Linked DNA regions of Homo sapiens. The protein of the gene in region 1 interacts with the protein of each later gene in a biochemical or structural test. Each region holds a gene or a part of one and is shown in the gene's direction. Other genes may lie near its edges.

Region 1 (7,854 bases):
AACCACTTGAACATGGGAAGCAGAGGTTGCATTGAGCTGAGATCGTGCCATGGCACTCCAGCCTGGGTGACAGAGTGAGACTCAGTCTCAAAAAAAAAAAAAAAAAAAAAAATATAACATTAGAGGTAAGTCTTGAAGGACTTTGACAGTGGAAGTAGGAGGCGAGGCCATTCTAAGTGAATGAAAAATGACAGGAGAGTAATTGTAGTCCTGGAAAAGAGCAAAGTAGGTACAGACCAACAGTCTATATTAGCTAGAGTATAGTGAAAGTGCAGAGGAAATGTCGGAGAACCATTCTTTATTCAAAAACTATCTTCCTCATGGCCAAGCATAGTGGCTCATGCCTGTAATCCCAGCATTTTGGGAGGTCAAGGTGAGTGGATCACTTGAGCTCAGGAATTCAAGACCATCTGGGGCAACATAGTGAGACCTCATCTCAACTAAAAAACAAAAAATTCAGACAGATGCAGTGGCTCACACCTGTAATCCCAGAACTTTGGTAGGCTGAGGCGGGCGGATCACGAGGTCAGGAGATCAAGACCCTCCTGGACAACATGGAGAAACCCCATCTCTATTAAAAATACAAAATTAGCTGGGCATGGTGGCACATCCCTGTAATCCCAGCTACTCGGGAGGCTGAGGCAGGAGAATCGCTTGAACCAGGGAGTCGGAGGTTGCAGTGAGCCGAGATCGCACCACTGCACTCCAGTCTGGCGACAGAGCGAGACTCCATCTTAAAAAATAAATAAATTTTAAAAAAAACTACCCCAGCATGGTGGTGCATGCCTGTAGTCCCAGTTACTCAGGAGGCTGAGGCAAGAGGGTGGTTTGAGCCAGGGAGGTCAAGGCTGCAGTGAGCTCTGATGGCGCCACTGTACTCCAGCTTGGGTGACAGAGTGAGACCTTGTCTCAAAAACAAAAACAAAAACAAAAAACCAACAAATCTCCTTGTTAGTATCATGGTGAGTAAAAAATAAAATAAAAATAGAAATAAACTGAACATGGTGGCTCATGCCTGTAATCCTAGCACTTTGGAAGGCTGAAGTGGGAGGATTGCTTGAGGGCTGGAGTTCAAAACTGGCTTGGGCAACACGGTGAGAGAGACCTTGTCTCTACAAAAGAACTTTTAAAACAAAAAATAGATAATTTAAAAAAATTAAAAAAAACAAAAAATAAAAAAATAATCAAGTATCAACTTGATTCCAGGCACTGCTTACTACTCTAGTGTTATACTGTAGATGTGGAAGCTGAGTAACTCATCCAAGATCACCGAAAGTGATGGAACACAGATCTAAATGCAACCAGTCTGACTCCAGGACCATTTAACCATTCTACTATTGGGCCCTATCTTGGCTAAGTTAGAAAGTAAGTTACTTTCTTTAGTGGTAAAGACTGGAGGGATAACAGGGAAGATAGTTATTTAAGAAAAAAAACTGGCATCAAACTAAATATCCATCAATAGTTGAACAGTAAAATAGGTTGTGGTAAATTCATATAATGGAATACTATATAGCAGTGAAAATGTACCACAGTTATAGAAATCAACAGGGAGGAATTTCAACACTTAATTATTAAGTAGGTAGCCAGGCATAGCGGTTTATGCCTGTAATCCCAGCACTTTGGGAGACCAAGACAGGAGGATTACTTGAGCCCAGGGGTTCGAGATCAACCTGGGCAACAGTGAGACTCCATCTCTATTTTCTTAAAATAAAATAAATGAAATTTTAAAAATTTTGAGGAGGGAAAGCAAACAAGGGATACTTGAAATATGATTACATTTCCATAAAGTCAAAGTGAGGCAAAATCATACAAGACATTGTTTAGAAATACATAAATACACTGCAAACTAAAAATGAGACACTAGAATGATTAATATAAAATTCAGGATAGTGGCTTCCTCTAGAGGAAGAGACAAGACATTGAGATTAGGGAGGAGCTCACAGAGTGCTTCGAGGAGTTGGTTACATTCATTTTTCTTAAATGGAATGCTGCTTATTATTTTTCTTTAAATTGTGCATTTAAGTAACACACTTCTTGTTTATATGATATATGTATAAATGTAATTTTTTTTTTTGAGATGGAGTTTCGCTCTTGTTGCCCAGGCTGGAGTGCAATGGCACTATCTTGGCTCACTGCAACCTCCACTTCCTGGGTTCAAGTGATTCTCCTGCCTCAGCCTCCCGAGTAGCTGGGATTACAGGCATGCGCCACCATGCCCGGCTAGTTTTGTATTTTTAATAGAGAAAGGGTTTCTCCATGTTGGTCAGGCTGGTCTCGAACTCCCGACCTCAGGTGATCCGCCTGCCTTGGCCTCCCAAAGTGTTGGGATTACAGGTGTGAGCCACCGTGCCAGGCCCTGAATCAGATTTAAAAGAGGGCATTTCATTAAAAAAAATTTTTTGTTGTTTGCTTTTGAGACAGAGTCTCGCTCTGTCGCCCAGGCTGCAGTGCATTGGCATGATCTTGGCTCACCGCGGCCTCAGCCTCCCAGGTTCAAGTGATTCTCCTGCCTCAGCCTCGCACTAGTTGAGATTACAGGAATGCACCACCACCACAGGAATGCACCTGTCTAACTTTTGTATTTTTAGTATAGAGGGAGTTTTGCCATGTTAGCCAGGCTGCTCTTGAACTCCTGACCTCCGGTGATCTGCTCGCCTCGGCTCCCAAAGTTCTGGGATTACAGGCGTGAGCCACCACACCCGGCCGAAAGAGGGCATTTCAGAATGAGGGTCTAGCATAAGCACAGAGAAGGGGGAGCAATAAGAGGGAAACAGGGAGTAGGTCATTTTTGCAATAGCCTGTGACATTTGTAGGGCAGTACTGGCGGGGAATAATTAAGTAAAATTGGCTGGTGCTGTGGCTCATGCCTGTAATCCCAGCACTTTGGGAGGCCGAGGCGGGCAGGTTGCTTGAGCCCAGGAATTCAAGACCAACCTGGGAAACATAGCAAGACCCTGTCTCAACAAAAAAGTAAAAAAATTAGCTGGGGGCGCGATGGGGTGGCTCATGCCTGTAATCCCAACACTTTGGAAGGCTGAGGCAGGCGGATTGCTTGAGCCCAGGAGTTGGAGACCAGCCTGGGCAACATGGTGAAACCCTGGCTCTATAAAGAATACAAAAATTAGTCGGGCCCAGTGGCGTGTGCCTGTGATCCCAGCTACTCGGGAGGCTGAGGTGGAAGGATCACCTGAGCCAGGGAGGTGGAGGTTGCAGTGAGTCATGTTGTTTGCGCCACTGCACTCCAGCCTGGGCAATGGAGTGAAACCCTGTCCAAAAAATAAAAAAATAAAGCTGTGGCAGAATGTGGAGATTCTTGGAAGCTGGAAGCTCTCATGGGGCATTTGGAAACCTCACATTGTAAATAACGGAGTCTTTTTATCAGTTTGGCTTCCTTAGTTTTAGGAAACAAGAAATAATTATGGCTAACTCAAGTAAAAAGAGAAAGAGAAGAGAAAAAAGACGTGGAGATAGAGAGAGAGGGAGAGAGAGGAAAAGACGAAAGGAAGGAAGGGGGAAAGGAGAGAGGAAGAGAGAAACAGAGAAACAGACTGATTAGTGTATTGGATAGATTACATAACCAAGTGACCAGTCAGGAACCCAGCAGCTCTGGGGGAGCTCAATGTGATGCATTGATAAACCCGCTCTTAAGAGCACTCGTTTCCAGTTACTTTCTATTCGGTGGGTCTCCAGCCAAGATTCCAGGTCCCAGGAGAATCTGACTGACCTAGTGTTTGCTTCCGCCTTTGCGGTCTGGGTTCTGTGCTTGCAGCTCATTAGAATACAGGGAGCAGAGACAAGCAGGTAGTTTCCCAAAGGAAGGGATGCTGAGTAGATTAAAAAAAAAGTGTAGATTCTTCAGTAAACTATGGGATGGTAACTATGCAAAACCTAAGATTTCCCTTATTCAAATAAATTATCTTTCATATTAGACATCTAAATATGCACTAATTTAGTTAAACCCCTGGGTTAGTTGATCTCATCACACTGAGCTAACATTTTTGTTGCTGTTGTTTGCAGTGACCTGAAGTTTCTTATCTTCACAATTGCTTTCCTCTCAAATAATTCCCAGATTTTAAATTTTTATTTTATTTTTTCTGGAGACGGAGTCTCGCTCTGTCGCCCAGGCTGGAGTGCAGTGGCGCGATCTCAGCTCACTTGCAGCCTCTGCCTCCCGAGTTCAAGCGATTCTCCGGCCTTAGCCTTCCAACCAGCTGGGACTACAGGCGCGCGCCCCCACGCCCGGCTAATTTAATTCCCAGATTGATATCCATTGCTTCTGAGATGGGCCAATTATCCTTCGGAGAAGACTTAGGTCGCCTGGCAGAAAAAGATGAAAGAAATCTAAGAAAACGACGACACTGAGAGAGGAGCCTAGCGAACCAGCAGAGCGACCCCAAGCCGCAATTCCCCCTTCCGTGGATCGATTACGAAGGCTTCCTGGCAGGAGCTCTCCAGGGCTGCCGACGTGAGCCGAACTGCACATTGGGAACTGTAGTTGAGTGGGAAAGCCGAGAGGCGGGGGCCGCACACGCGTACAGGGGCCCCGGTCAACAAAGACGCGCCGTGCGCGCGCGCGCCGGAGAAAAACACGGGAAGACGTGCGCGTGCGCGGCCGCCGCTGGGAGCCACCAGGCGGCGGAGAGGACAGCGACAGGAAGGGAGGGGCCCGAGCCACCGACTGCAGGAGGAGAAGGGGTTGTGCTCCTGGCCGAGGAAGGAGAAAGGGGCGGGGCCGGCGGGCAGCGTGCGGCAGTGCGGAGCTCCTGAGACCGGCGGGCACACGGGGGTCTGTGGCCCCCGCCGTAGCAGTGGCTGCCGCCGTCGCTTGGTTCCCGTCGGTCTGCGGGAGGCGGGTTATGGCGGCGGCGGCAGTGAGAGCTGTGAATGAATTCTCCGGGTGGACGAGGGAAGAAGAAAGGCTCCGGCGGCGCCAGCAACCCGGTGCCTCCCAGGCCTCCGCCCCCTTGCCTGGCCCCCGCCCCTCCCGCCGCCGGGCCGGCCCCTCCGCCCGAGTCGCCGCATAAGCGGAACCTGTACTATTTCTCCTACCCGCTGTTTGTAGGCTTCGCGCTGCTGCGTTTGGTCGCCTTCCACCTGGGGCTCCTCTTCGTGTGGCTCTGCCAGCGCTTCTCCCGCGCCCTCATGGCAGCCAAGAGGAGCTCCGGGGCCGCGCCAGCACCTGCCTCGGCCTCGGCCCCGGCGCCGGTGCCGGGCGGCGAGGCCGAGCGCGTCCGAGTCTTCCACAAACAGGCCTTCGAGTACATCTCCATTGCCCTGCGCATCGATGAGGATGAGAAAGGTAACTAGGGGGCTGGGGGAGGGGGCGGCGGCGCCGGGAAGAAGGCGGTGGGGTCGCCGGGGGAGGGCAACACCTGCGTCCCTTTTCTGCGGGAGGGGACGGTGCACCCCCGGAATTGATATGCCCCGGGAGACTGCTTTCCCGTAGGTCGGAGCCTCATCTTCTAGTATTCTTAAAACCTCTCCCCTTTCAGGGCACTGTAGCTGTCGACTTTGTTTCAGACACCAGCCTTCCCCCACACTTCTGCATGACCCAGGTCACTATGAGACACCCAGACGTGTTGATGACAGTGACATTTGTCCTAGAGTGACCACACTGATCCTTTCTAGCACTGTGAAGAGTGTGCAGCTTCCTCTGAACCAAGGTTTCCAAAAGGTTTTGATATTGAAGAAGCAGTGCCGCCTTACTGGCTTTTAATGAAAGCAGAGTATTGTAGTGTCAGAAAAAAAGAACAAATGGTGACAATTTTGAAAGAAATAGCTGCATATGACTGCAGTTGAATTTGCATCATTTTAATCAAGATAATCATTTTATCAGTACAACGATTCCTGAATACTTTTTCAATGAAGTTATATTTAGCATAAAACTTTTCCCCCTGTTGCTTTGATTTTAATTAAAACAGTATTCCAAAGTAGCCTTTAATTTCCAAGTTGAAATGTTTGATGAATGGATTGCGTAAACTTAAACATACCACTTTACAGTAAAACCTAAAACAACTATGTATGTTTCTGAATGAAAGCAAGGATACTACATCTTTCGGGTTTCTTTTAAGCTAACTTTTTTTTTTTTTTGAGACGGAATCTCGCCCTGTCGCCCAAGCTGGAGTGCAATGGTGCAGTCTCGGCTCACTGCAACCTCCGACTCCCTGGTTCCAGCGATTCTCCTGCCTCAGCCTCCCGAGTAGCTGGGATTACAGGCACGCACCACCACGCCTGGCTAATTTTTGTATTTTTAGTAGAGTAGGGATTTCACCATGTTGGCCAGGATGGTCTCCATCTCCTGACCTCGTGATCGGGTCGCCTCGGCCTCCCAAAGTGCTGGTAATACAGGCATGAGCCACCGCGCCTGGCCTTAAGCTAACATTTTTTATTATATGTGCCAGGCATTGTGCTATTAGCTTTGCATGTGTTATCTTTTTTCTTTTTAAAAAAAATAGCAACCATCCCAGACCATGAAAAGTGTTATTTAATCCTCACAATAACTTTGTGAGATGAAGGTATTATTGGTATCAGCATTTTAGAGATGAAGAAAATGAGGCCCAAAAGATAAAGGAGGTTATTCCAAACCTGTGCTAATAATGAAATTTCTTTTATGGAAAATAAGTGAAATTAGGAGAAGTCTAACTTTTACAATTCTCCCCTTTTATCCTTACTTCCAGTATGCTGAGATCTTGCTTCTCCCTCTGCCAAAAACACCCACTTTTCTACCACACCTCAATTAGATACTCACTTGCATTGTCCATTAGTGAAAACAGAAACAATCTGCACTTCATTCATAGTGTCTGTCTCTACTGCCAACTCCAAAAACTGTTCTAGAATTTCAATCTTGTTGAAACCTGTTTCCTTTGTGGGGCCTGGGAGTGGGAAGTGGGATATAAGGAAAGAGGCAGTTATTCATTGTTTTGGACAGTAAGGAAAGAGTGACGGTTAAGAGAGGTCAAGGAGGGTGTTAACATTTAAGAATACTATGTGTTTGTAGAAGGAAATTTTTTGTTAACTGCTCCATTCTTTTTTTTTTTTTTTTTTGAGATGGAGTCTCCCTGTGTCACCCAGACTGGAGTGCAGTGGCGTGATCTCAGCTTACTGCAACCTCTGCCTCCCAGACGCAGGCGATTCTCTTGCCTCAGTCTCCCGAGTAGCTGGAACCACAGGTGCGCCCTATCACGGCTGGCTAATTTTTTGTATTTTTAGTAGAGATGGTGTTTCACCATGTTGGCCAGACTGGTCACGAACTCCTGACCTCAGGTGATTCGCCTGCCTCGACCTTCCAAGTGCTTGGATTACAGGTGTCAGCCACTGTGCCCACCCAGCAAGCTCCATTCTTTATCACCTCTTAAGAACATCCAGGATCCCTTGGGGAGAATTAAAACGGTTGCAAAGTTTTAGAATAGAGGAACATGTTTAAGCGTAGATCATTTTTTGGGCCAGTCATGGTGGCTCACGCGTGTAATCCCAACACTTTGGGAGGCCGGGGCGGGTGGATCATGAGGTCAAGAGTTTGAGACCATCCTGGCCAACATGGTGAAATCCCATCTCTACTAAAAATACAAAAATTAGCTGGGCATGGTGACACATGCCTGTAGTCCCAGCTACTCAGGAGGCTGAGGCAAGAGAAGTGCTTGAACCTGGAAGGTGGAGGTTGCAGTGAGCCGAGATCGTGCCACTACACTCCAGCCTGGGCGGCAGAGCAAGACTCCGTCTTGAAAAAAAAAAGTAGGTCATTTTTGGCTGGGCACGGTGGCTCATGCCTGTAATTCCAGCACTTTGGGAGGCTGAGGTGGGTGGATTGCTTGAGCCCAGGAGTTTGAGACCAGCCTGGGCAACATAGTGAAACCC
Region 2 (7,272 bases), on another chromosome or scaffold:
CGTACAAAACAAACAGAGAAAACACAACAATTCTTTCTTTCCAAATGAGAATCTCTTTGGTTTCTTATTAGCCATGTGACTCTCTTGGCTCTCCTTTGCCATGACCATTTGGATCTTTTGGAGTATATAACTTTCTGTGCTTTTCTACTCTTAAAGGAAACTGGTGGTGACAAAAGAGAAAGAGAAGAAAGTGGGGCTGTATACGATCTATGTGAATCCTGCCAATACCCACCAGTTTGCAGTGGGTGGACGAGATCAGTTTGTAAGGTGAGTTTGTGGCTCTTTTGTGTCTTTGACAGTTTGTAAGACTGATGCATTGTATACTACCAGGTGCTCCTTTATGGAGAGTTACGAATTTTATAGGAATCCATTAACTATTATCTTGAATTTTTTACCGTTTTCCAAAAATCTTACACGCCTTTGGAGATGTTCTGTTCTCTAATGTAACAGTCTCTGAGGGGTGACTTTACATATTTTAGAGATTATCAAGTTTTAAAGAAGTTAGATGATGGTCAGGTGTAGTGGCTCACACCTGTAATCTCGACACTTTGGGAGGTGAGGCGGGTGGATCACCTAAGGACAGGAGTTTGGGACCAGCCTGGCCAACATGGCAAAACTCTGTCTCTAAAAAAAAAAATACAAAAATTAGCCAGGCATGGTGGTACATGCGTGTAGTCCCAGCTGCTCAAGAGGCTGAGGCAGGAGGATCACTTGAGCTCAGGAGTCAGAGGTTGCAATGAGCCAAGATTGTGCCACTGCACTCCAGCCTGAATGACAGAGCGAGACTCTGTCTCAAAAAAGAAAAGAAAAGAAGTTAGATGAATTGACCAAGGTCCTCACGTGGCAGCTAAGCCATAAATTTAGGTTTACCAGCAAGTACTATATTAGTAAATAATCTACCTTTTTCGTATGTAAATAAACGTGCACTAGAAATTTTAAATACTGGTTTTCAATTCAGAAATAGTTTGACTTGGGAGCACTTAGTGTGAACTGAGGGTTTTTTGGCTCTCACTGTCCTGAGCTACCACTTTTTTTTATCCATAGTGATATCTTTGTTACCGTGAACACCTTTTGTTAACACTGGCTCTTGAGACATGACCTAAGGAAAACAGACACTGTGGATTCAGTCTCCATATGTATTAGTTAATTTCCTCTGACCCTTAGTAATAAGCTGTATCCATCCCTATCCAGTTGGCCTATTTTAACTATGTTTCTTTGGGCTCATCAGTTTGAAAGGAGAGAGAGGGGCAAGATCACTAGAAAAATGAGTGACTTTTTGCTTTCCTAATGGTAAGTGAAAAGCATCATCTTCCTTTTGAAATGAGAGCACATTTTATAGCTATATTTCCAGATTCATTTTATTAATAAGAATCATGGGGAATAGGGTAAATTTTTAGAAAATACATGAGATGACTTTGCCTTGTTCAAGAATCCTGGACAAAACCTTGTTTCTCTCTTCTTCCCCTATTCCCATGCCTTCAAAATTCGTTTCCTCTAGTCACCAACAGTCCTTAAATGTGTAGCCATAGATTTTTTTTTTTAGACAGAGTTTTACTCTTATTACCCATGCTGGAGTGCAGTGACACAATCTTGGCTCACTGCAACCTCCGCTTCCCGGGTTCAAGCGATTCTCCTGCCTCAGCCTCCCGAGTAGCTGGGATTACAGGTGCACGCCACCACGCCTGGCTAATTTTTTGTATTTTCAGTAGAACCGAGGTCTCACCGTGTTAGCCAGGCTAGTCTCGAACTCCTGACCTCAGGTGATCTGCCCGCCTTGGCCTCCCAAAGTGCTGGGATTGCAGGCATGAGCCACTGTGCCTGGCCAATTTTTTTTATTTTTAAATAAGAAGCTGTTGATCAAAAAGGGTTGTAGTTTGTATAGATTTTCAGTTGCTACCTCCTCCAAGTTGAGCATTCACTGAAATTTTGAGTTGAGAGTTCCTACTTAGAGCTCCAGATTACTTGAAAAGTCTGTGTCTCTAACAAATTCCACCACTAGGACCAAGATGTTTGGAGGGGAATGTAGTAGTTTGCTGTATTGAGAACTGTATTCATATGTATGTATGTATTCATATGTATTCATATGATATGTATATCATATTGCCTTAACCCAAAGCTGATACTTTCCCAGGGTTAGAGTAAGGCTTAGAGTTTTAGCATTTCAACACAAGGAGAAATACTCAAATCTTCTGTGTCTTATCAGCCTCAATATTCCTCTATTGGCTATTTACTGGGCAGAAGTTATGTGAAGATTTTTGTTTTTTTTTTGAGACAGAGTCTCACTTTGTTGCCCAGGCTGGAGTGTAGTGGCTCGATCTCGGCTCACTGCAACCTCTGCCTCCTGGGTTCAAGTGATTCTCATGCCTCAGCCTCCCAAGTAGCTGGGATTACAGGCATGTGCCACTTTGCCTGGCTATTTTTGTATTTTTAGTAGAGATACGGTTTTGCCATGTTGGCCAGGCTGGTCTCGAACTGTCTTCAAGTGATCCACCCACCTCGGCCTCTCAAAGTGCTGGGATTACAGTCGTGAGCCACCGCGCCTGGCTATGTGAAGATTTTGAGGCACGCTGATCCTACACAAGCAGGTAGCCCTTTCAGCACTCCAGCTCTTCTCTGACATTAGGTTACACTCAACTTCTCTGGCACCTCTCCTGTGCAGCCAACTGAATGTTTTGAGGTTTCTCCTTTCTTATTCTTCCTTTGAAAGAACCCAAACAGCTCATCTTCTGGTATAAATTTGAAAACATTTTTGCTGAATATTATATATCATAACATCATTAACTTTCACTCCTAGCCTAAAGGAATTACTTCAAGGGAATATAGAGAAATAGCTTACTGATCCTCAAGGCTTTTGCATCATTAATACTGAATTTTAGTTTAGGGTTATTAAAAAGTATTTAAGGGAAGCTCTGGGGAGACATGCTTTTTGGCCTGTGGCCAAAAAAAAAAAAAAGGTAAGTAGAGGAGGTATAGGTGTGAGTCCCTACTACACCTGCTAAGCTAAGCTAATTCCTGCTTAGCTTAGTTTTAAGAATTTATAGGGGTAAAGAAAAAGAGAATATATCAGGTGAATCCTTTAGTGGTAAATTTGGCTGACATGAAAATTTATTGCTAAAGGATTAAGTATAGGCCCTGATTGATGAAGCACAGTCAGTAAATCATCTCTTCATTCCCCAGTTCTTAAGCCAACATCAGCAACACTGAGAGAACATTAGATTAAAGGCAGGTATAGAAGAGAGACTTAGGGTAACAAGTTAGTGGGTGCCTGAAGGCATGTGGGAAGAGATGTGGTAAAGGTGTGCACACTATTCCTTACGTGACTTAAAATGTCAAGGGGCTTGGTGTGGTGGCTCATGACTATAAAACTAGAGCACTTTGGAAGGCCAAAGCTGGAGGATAGCTTGAGGTCAGAAGTTCAAGGCCAACTTGGGCAATATAGCAAGACTGTGTCTCTACCAAAAAAAAAAAAAATTAAGAAAAAATTTTAATTTTTTAATTAATTAAATATCTCCAGGTGTGGTGGTATGCTCCTGTAGTCCCAACTACTTGGGAGGCAGAGGAGGATCTCTTGAGCCCAGGAGTTTGAGGCTACAGTGAGCTGTGATTACACCACTGCACTCCATCCTGGATGACAGAGTGAGACCCTGTCTCAAAAAAAATAACTAAAAGTAAAATATAAACTATCAAGGGCCTATCATATGTTCAGAAAGTGGTAGGAAAGTTTGTATTAATCTTTCTATGCTTACTGTCTATCACAGGGCTTGACAAACTGTAGTGCTTGTTTTTATAAATAAAGTTTTATTGGAACACAGCCATGGCCTTACTTTACATGTTGTTTATGACCACTTTCATGCTACAATGGCAGAATTCAATAGTTTTAATAGAGATTAGATGGTTTGCCAGTTTACCAGCTTAAAACATTTACTGTCTTGTCCTTTAAGAAAAAGTTTGCCAAACTCCGTTCTAGCATCATATGTAGAATATAGTAAGCTATTAATAAACACTTAGTTGGGGTGTAGTGGCTTATACCTGTAATCCCAGCACTTTGGGAGGCTGAGGCAGGAGAATCTTTTGAGGCCAGGAGTTTGAGACCAAGCTGGGCAGATGCTGTCTCCACCAAAAAATAAAAATATTAGCTCAGCATGGTGGTGTGTGCCTGTAGTCCCAGCTACGCGGCAGGTTGAGGCGGGAGGATCGTGTGAGCTGGGGATGTCAAGGCTTAAGTCATCAGTAACCTAACTGCCAAAGCAAACAAAGTACTTTTCAAGTCTTTTTCTCTACTCTTGACATTATTACTCCTTCCCTGAAGCACCTTCTCTCCTTGATGTCCAACCACTCCTCAGTGTTGTTCATGGGTGTGTCTTCCTTTCTCCACCCATTAAATGCTGATGTTCTCCAGTAGCTCAGTCTTCAGCTCTCATCTTACTCTATACCAGGGAATTTTAACTTGAAGTACAAATATTATGTGAACCTCCAGAAAGTATGCTTATGTGCATTTTTCTGGGGAGAAGGGACTAGAGTTTTCATTATATTCTGAAACAGGCCAGAGATTCTAAAGGGCGAAGGGAAAATCTTCTCTGTATTTTCCCTTGGAGATCTAATTCCATTACCAATGCTTTAACTACCACCTTTCACACGGATATATGACTTACATCTGTGTCTGCAGACCACACTTATTCTGAACTCTAGACTTACACCTACTTAACAAATGGATATAATTAACTGATGACTTCAGCCAGAGAAGTCTCAGTGGTGAGTTGAGAACCAAAACCAGATTAGGATGGACTGAGAAGTGAATAGGAAGTAAGAAAGTGGAAATATTGAATGTTGATTGTTCTTTTCAGTAGTGTAACTGTAAGGGGAAGGAGAAAAAAAGCAATAGTAGGAAAGGACAGTCAGCAGAAGGATTTTTAGAAAGTGGCCAGCTGGTGATGAGGAAGAGGTTGAGAAATTAGATAATCATCAAACAAGGTCCCTGGAAGGATGAAATGAAAAGCATTTTTCAAGAGATTGGCTCTGAGATTGGAGGAGACTGGGTGAGAACAGATACTGGATCTGTCTTGTTCCTCACTGTATTTCTAGCACCTAGCATAATATTTGACACATAATATGTGTGTCCTCATGAGTTTAAAGCTTGGATTAGAGAGAGGAAGGAAGGTGAAGGTGTAGTGTGCTTGATAAGAATGAGGAAAGGAGAGGGAGTCTTGAGGATATGGGTGGTAGTTTTTAATAATTATTGTGGGGTATGAGAGGGAGAACAGGCCAAATACAGTTTTAAGGAGGGATTACAGACCCATTGACTTACATTAAGCATGGTTTCTGCCCGTGAGTAACCTTTTTCGGTAGGTAATGTACATGTAAAAAGCTCCATACTAATGTTAGTTGTTTCAGTGAAAAGTAGCAGTATGTGATATAAAACTTGAGGAGAGAGATAAACCACTTCAAACTGACAGAATTGAGGATTGCCACTTAAAATGGGAAGTATGTGGATAAAGGATTTAAGGGTTTGCCTGGCCAACAGATGAAACTCTGTCTCTACTAAAAATACAAAAATTGGCCGGGCGTGGTGGTGTGTGCCCATAGTCCCAGCTATTTAGGAGGCTGAGGCAAGAGAATTGCTTGAACCCATGAGGCGGAGGTTGCAGTGAGCCGGGGTCATGCCACTGCACTACAGCCTGGGTGACAGAGCAGGACCCCATCTCAAACAAACAAAAGATTTAGGGTTTGGAAATGGATTGGAAAAGGGATGCCCTTTAAGGAAGAGCACAAACCAAAAGCTTGGTTTGGAAAATGTTGTTTATCTGCATCCAGCTGGCAGTTTCCTGCCACTACATCAAATTGCAGCTCTTCAAGGGTTTCGTTTGTACATTTTTACATTTTCATTGCTTTTCCAACTGTAGGATTTATGACCAGAGGAAAATTGATGAGAATGAGAACAATGGAGTACTCAAGAAGTTCTGTCCTCATCACCTGGTAAGATTCATGAAGGGCCAGTTGCTGCAGGCTTCCCTGACTCAACCCCAAGGCTGCACCTGAACTTGTTGGTATGGTGGGAAGAGCTTGGACTTTCAAGTCAGTCATCTGGATTTGAATCCTGGCTTTACCACTTACCAGCTTTGTGATCTTGGCAGTCACTTCACTTCTGATAGCCTCAGTTTTTTAATCGACAAAATAGAAATAAAAATAACTGCCTTGCACCTTGATGGTGAGGCCTAATGAGACAGTGTACATAAAATGGCTAGCACATGGATGACAACCAAAAGAAAGCCCCAAGATGCTACCCCCTGAGGTGGTCATGTTTCATCAGTTGTACTCTTGTCTCTGTCTGTCTTTCTCAAATCTCTGGGAGAAGATATAGGGGAGTTTGAAGGAAAAGCTGTTTCCTGAAGATGGTATAACAAATGGGGGGGTGGGGCATCAGTCAGTATCTGCTCCTTATTGCAGGTGAACAGTGAGTCCAAAGCAAACATCACCTGTCTTGTGTACAGCCACGACGGCACAGGTACGTGAGCAGGGCCCAGCTCCTAGGCTGGCATGCCCCCTCTGTCTAGGGAGCTGCTGAGCCAGTGAGGCATGTGCCCTCCAGTGCTCACCACTGTGCTATAGCTCCAAGTAGAGCAGCTGGGGAGTAACTGCTGATGGTGAGCACATAGCGGGAGGATACAGTAGATGACCCTTGGAGATGCCAGGTACCATTTGCAGAATGCTGCAGATGATATTTGGCAGGGCCTGTCCTGAAGCCCAGGTTGCTTGCCTGAGCAGGTTCTTATGCCTTTGACTCATTCCTGAGTTAATGGGTATGACCTTTTTGAGCATTCTGCTGCCCCTGGGTTGGCAGTGTGTTCTTAGTCTACCCTGTACAGTCGGACTTGCCTGGTGTTCCAAATAAGATGGGTGCTACACCTGGGTATTTGGAGGGGGCACTACTGGCAAGAAGCCCCACCCCAACCCCCACCTCCTGGTCCCTGCTTTTTTCAGCCTTTGCCTTCACTGCTATGTTCTTGTTCTTGGCAGAGCTCCTGGCCAGTTACAATGATGAAGACATTTACCTCTTCAACTCCTCTCACAGTGATGGGGCCCAGTATGTTAAGAGATACAAGGGCCACAGAAATAATGCCACAGGTGAGACTGTCTTCCTAGGTTTCTTTGGCCCAAGCCTGTTGGCTTTGGAGAACCACAGTGTCTTACTCAGGTTATACAAATAGAAACTACCTGCCTGTGTTGCCATGGGCACTGAGGGATTATCCTGAATTGGGCTGGAGTTTTCATGTT

What was found.
Region 2: the proteins of SPAST (region 1) and DCAF8 form a complex in vitro, tested with the Homo sapiens proteins (one study listed by BioGRID and IntAct).

What each region holds. Positions count from the first base shown.
Region 1 is NC_000002.12:32,058,948-32,066,801, forward strand, and holds the start of SPAST (spastin), read left to right. Parts: upstream 1-4,608; 5' UTR 4,609-4,884; coding exon 4,885-5,299; intron 5,300-7,854. UniProt on the Homo sapiens protein: ATP-dependent microtubule severing protein that specifically recognizes and cuts microtubules that are polyglutamylated.
Region 2 is NC_000001.11:160,224,292-160,231,563, reverse strand, and holds part of DCAF8 (DDB1- and CUL4-associated factor 8), read left to right. Parts: intron 1-156; coding exon 157-267; intron 268-5,900; coding exon 5,901-5,973; intron 5,974-6,444; coding exon 6,445-6,502; intron 6,503-7,014; coding exon 7,015-7,122; intron 7,123-7,272. UniProt on the Homo sapiens protein: May function as a substrate receptor for CUL4-DDB1 E3 ubiquitin-protein ligase complex.